Linked DNA regions of Homo sapiens: region 2 is linked to region 1. A link means that fine-mapping ties the variant in region 1 to the expression of a gene that starts in the linked region. Tissue or cell type: caudate. Region 1 holds a variant in brackets; the other region holds the start of a gene. All regions are shown on one strand. Distances are from middle to middle.

What was found. PIP is the estimated chance that this variant, and not a neighbour inherited with it, causes the effect.
Region 2: SLC39A12-AS1 starts here. The variant in region 1 is fine-mapped to the expression of SLC39A12-AS1 in caudate (GTEx, PIP above 0.99). The same link has a PIP of 0.9 or more in amygdala, cerebral cortex, hypothalamus, nucleus accumbens and putamen.

What each region holds. Positions count from the first base shown.
Region 1 is chr10:18,134,998-18,137,765 of GRCh38, forward strand. No RefSeq gene overlaps it. Among named protein-coding and RNA genes, the nearest start is that of CACNB2, 4.0 kb to the right of the region's middle. RefSeq lists an enhancer at 926-1,892. The variant A/G (reference allele first, on the strand shown) is at 1,492.
Region 2 is chr10:18,009,554-18,012,187 of GRCh38, forward strand. SLC39A12-AS1 (SLC39A12 antisense RNA 1) reads right to left here and starts at 1,009. Exons shown (of 5, transcript NR_038419.1): 1 at 976-1,009; 2 at 112-200. All of the region lies in intron 12 of SLC39A12 (solute carrier family 39 member 12), which reads left to right.

The DNA.
Region 1 (2,768 bases):
TTAGTCATGTGACAGAGTTCTAGCCAATAAAATATAAGTGGAAGAGATGTATACCACTTCCAAGTTTGGACAATACAAACTTGCATGCACCACCATCTACCATCACCTAAGGCACCAATGTCCTTTTTCCTCCTTGTAAGTAACCCCGGTGGGAGTAACATGGTGACGTGGGAGGTTGCATTGTGAAGATGGTAGCTAGTTACTCAAGCCTCGGTTCCTAAATGTCAGCATGATGCAGAGCTATTTCTAATGGGGAACTTCTACTCCAGTATACATTTCTTTCAAATCCATTGAATATTCAGACTGTATGTTATAGCAGTTTGACTTACCCTAATTAACATAGAGGAATAGTGATATCTACCTCACAGGCAAAGACAATGCATTTAAGTTCTTAATAGGAAGCCTGGCGCCTCATATGTAAACAAAAGTATCAGTTGTTATAACAAGGTTTAGATGAGAAATAAATCAGATAGATCATAAATGAATGTGCTTTATAAACTAAAAAGTGCTATATACTATTGAATATTCCAGAGTGCTCTCCTGGGTAGTTTTAGGAACTCATGGAATCTCATTTCTGTGAAGTCTTTTCTCTGGAAGTGAAATTAGGCTTTCTCTGAACACTTGTACATTTCAGTTTTAAACTTTTACTATCCATACAGATACATTCAATCCCATTATAATGGATTTGCTTGCATCTTTATATGCTTTTAAATAGCAGTCTGTAATTCAGGGCATAGGTTTACAAAAAGCAAACATGTAACTTCATGGAATGCATCATACCAAGTCAGGCCAGTGGCCAATACAGCTATATATCCTTATGAAAATGCTATTAATAGTGGTGGAAATTCAGGACTTTCAGTGAGGTGTAAAATGATTTACTGAGTAAAATGAGAAATCATACATGTGTATCTGTCCTAAAAAGCTCTTTCTTTAAGGTGTTAAATGTAGTCACAAATCTGCAAGCAGGAGAGGAAGAATAAAGCACTTGTAATCACTGTTTCTTCCACTTACAGAAAAAATAATCTTTTAAAACGTCTGGCTTCATTAGCCAGTGTCTCTTACCAGCCCCTGTTCCTATTTCAGAGCATTAGTAATTCCCAGAATATGTCTGTCCATTACAACAACTAATGAGCACAAGGAAGCTAACATACAGCTTGAATAAATTAGTCATCTGCATTTGAATGCGTCGATGGCACATCCATTATTGCTGGAGTCTCTTGCATCTGCTTAACTTTTAACATGAAAAGAATTAGGCTTTACTTACCAAATTTTTGCTTTCCTCTGTGGCTTTTAAATATTGCGCAAGTCAAAGAATCTTAAAAACAAGATCAACCGTGATTGAAGGCATCTATACATTTTCCAAGTCTTTTTATTCTGTTTATTCTGATTTTGCTCCCTTTTTCAGGAGTAACATTTTGTTACTCTGTGTTTGAAATCTTTTACAAGCCAGACAAGAGTCTGAATGGGTACATTGTATTGGATTAGTGTTCA[A/G]TGCATGCTAATTAAACTAGTTTGAGTTATAAAGGAAGAAGTAGTATAATGTTCTCATGGGAGTCAGGCTTAGGTAAATGTTGTCATTGTACGTTAAAACTGGCAAAGTTGTATGCTGTGTTTTAAGACGCAAGAAGTCATTCAACATTCATGCATTCATTTAGACAACAAATGTTTTCACGTTCTAACTAAGTGGCAGACACCATGCTGGGTGGTGCTGGGGATACTAAGATGAAAAAGACGCCATCACTGCCCTCAAGGAACCCTATCTAGTGGTAGGGAGAAACATAAAAAAACAGGGAGTTCATATTATGAATTATATGAAATGAATATATTGTATTACATTTGAACATTTAATTCAAACTTTACTTGCCCTCTGGTTATAAGCGTTATTAAAATTATTTTCAAGGTTTTGATTTTTTTGCGGTCTCTTTAAACATCTGATGAAAGATGAAATTCTACTTCCCAAATGGTCCTAATTGAAAGCGAATGCACAAATAAGCATGCTATAAGAAACTGGACAGACATCATGAGAAAACACTCAGTTTCACCAAACCTGGTGTTTTTTTTTAAATAATGTTTCTTCTTTTGTTTTCTCCTTCCTTCCTTCCTTCCTTCCTTCCTTCCTTCCTTCCTTCCTTCCTCCCTCCCTCCCTCCCTTCTTTCCTTCATTTATTAATTGGCTTTTAAGTGCTAACTAGCAAGACTGTAAGCCCCATGGAGCTGGTAACCTGGTCTTTGTTGGCTGTGCTCATCAGGTGGCACAAAATAGAAGCTTGATTCATACTTTATTGGATGACTATTGAAAGAACTCAGAGGGCAACTTGCCAGATTCTGAATGTGTCCTAGAGAATAAGTGTGGTTCCTGTCCACACAGAGTTTACAGTCTGAAATGGATTTAATGTTTTCCCTAAGATTTAAACACATGCTCAAGAAAACTTCACAGTTTGATTAAATGAGTAGGCCTAAAACAGTGATATTATCAACAGAGCATGGGGCAAAAGTAGACTATAAGTCGAAAACTTTAAACACAATTTCTTTTCCATTTTCACACACACATACATACAGGCATACATATAAAAGCATGGCTGATTGTTGCTGTTCAAAATGTTCCCATTTTAGAAATTATTACAAACCAATATTTAAGTGCTGCTGTTTAACATTCAGCAAAATTTAAATAAAAGTGGCATTTTAATTTTTTTAATTTTATTTTTCCATAAGTTATTGGGGTACAGGTGGTATTCGGTTACATGAGTAAGTTCTTTAGTGGAGATTTG
Region 2 (2,634 bases), 130 kb before region 1:
AGACTATCCCTTATGTTTCTTCAACCTTATTTTACTTATCTAATAACTTTGCAGGCAGGGGATTGGGGGGAGCAGGAACCTCAAGAATAAAAAGCAGTCAGAGCAATTTACTTATCTTCCCTCTTGTGAGAAGTGTCGCCCAGAAGTAATATCACAGCCAGACCTTTGCCTGGAGGACTTTCAATTTCCAGATAATTTTCCTTAAGTGAAAGGCAGGATAAAAGGTATTTTGAATATGAATTTAAGATCTTCTACCTTTAAAACATATCCAAAAATGCAAAAATCAAACCTGAGTATTCAATCTGGTCAATAAACAGGATTATCAATATAGTTCATCCTCTCTACACTTATTGTAGGTCAGTAAATGTAGCAGCTTCAAGAACATGAATTGGGTAAAAGCAAAAAAACATTAATTGAGTGACAAACATCCACCTTTCTAGCCAGGCTTCTCCTCTCTTCTTCATCATATAACTATAAAATTAAACTAAACTAGAATCCTAGACTTTTAGAATATTGATCCCATTCCCTCCTCCCCATTTTTCTTTCTTTTTCTTGTGATTTACTGAGTTTGAATGAGTCTTTCTTTATCAGAGAAATCTAGACTCCGAGGCAATTCAGTCAAAGATCTGCAATCACCAAGTCAGGTCTGGTAAATGAATCCTTTCTCCATCCAAAAGATGAGTAAGTCTTCCTTTCTTTGAAGTTTGGCAATACCTAAGTGTAATTTCTGTTAAACATCCACCCACAGGAAGAGATTTTGTTTGAAAAAGACATATGAAGTAACCTTGATATACGTATTTGTTTTCAACAAATATTGTAGTTAAAATCAATGAGTTCCATTGGCATCATTTTAAATATCCTTTGGCTGAGAAAGAAATAGCAAGCATTCAAAACTCAATTCAGGCAGCAAAATTAATGTAATTTAACATTCACAATTATTTCTTAACAAAAGCAAGAAGGGTGAATCATTCTTACCCACAAATTTGAAAGACTTCTATTCTCTTTCTGTAAAAATCAGTCAAACCCCACACTTAGAAATTTTCTACTGAGAAAATGAGTAATTAAGCCAACTTTGGTGAACGCTGAATTCTCTCTATAATTAAAAGAAACTGACCATCAGAAATGCTGGTATTTTTCTACTCCTCGTTCCTCTTTTCTTCTAACTAATTTCTCAGATCATACACACACATACACACAGATCTTCCAAAGCAGTTATTTTAAAAATGCAGTTGGCCCTAGAACAACATGGGTTTGAACTGCATGGGTTCACTTATACTCAGATTTTCTTCCACCTCTGCCACCTCTGAGACAGCAAGACCAACCGTTCCTCCTCCTCCTCCGTCCCTTCAATGTGAAGATGAGGATGAAGACCTATATGATTGTCCACTTCTACTTAACTAATAGTAAATGTATTTCTCCTCTTTATGATTTTATTTTCTTTTCATTTCGTTTCTCTTTTCTTCTTTCTTTTCTTTCCCAAAACAAAATAATACAAAGCCCAGGCGCCCCCTCCAGGTATTTCCTCCCTTCCTTCCTTCCTTCCTTTCTTTTTTTGAGACAGAGTCTCACTCTGTCGCTCAGGCTGGAGTGCAGTGGCGCGATCTCAACTTACTGCAGCCTCTGCCTCCCAGGTTCAAGCAATTATCCTGCCTCAGCCTCTGGAGTAGCTGGGATTGCAAACATGTGCCCCCATGCCCGCTTATTTTTATGCTTTTAGTAGAGATGGGGTTTCGCCATGTTGGCCAGGCTGGTCTGGAACTCCTGGCCTCAAGTGATCCACCTGCCTCAGCTTCCCAAAATGCTGGGATTACAGGCATGAGCCACTGCACTCATCCCCCTTATGACTTTCTTAATAACATTTTCTTTTCTCTAGCTTACTTTATTGTAAGAATACTGTATATAATACACAGAGCATATAAAATATGTGTTAATTGTGTTATTGGTTAGGCTTCTGGCCAGCAGTAGGCTATAAGTCGTTAAGTTTTGGGAGAGTCAAAAGTTATACATGAATTTTCAACTGTGCAGGGATCAGCATCCTAACCCCCACATTGTTCAACTGAACTAAAGCTGGCTGACATCTGTCTTTGCTGAGCTTTACGACTAAGAATTTGTCTAACTGAATCACTTCCCCTAAGGAAAAAAAGGAGAAGAGAATTGTTAAATACAAGTTTAAAGCAGGTAACATCTTAGTCTCTCCTAATTGCGTGTGACAGTGATGTGCTCTTTATCTTATAACTCACAGTTTTCAAAAAAATGTAATTTATCTTCTGCAAACTGCTTCATGAATTGCCTTGAGAAGATCCCACTGGGAAGTGATAGACATATAAGATTCTGTATTTGAATTATTCAGCAAATAAAATTTTTAAAGCTGAAGATTTTAAAACAACCTTGAGAATAGCCTCCGGGTTGGCTATCCCATATAAGTTGAGAGCTGTGGTCTTTGCTTTCTTGAATAACAAGGAAGGTTAAAACAGCTATGTTAAGTTGTTTATTGAACATAAATACTAGTTGAAAAAGACCTAAATTCAAAACAGTGGGAACAAACCGCCTGATTTCAGGAGATTCTTGAGTCAACAGAGTGTTGAGGATTCTACTCTTACTAATCAAATATGATTCTAAAATAGAACATATTCT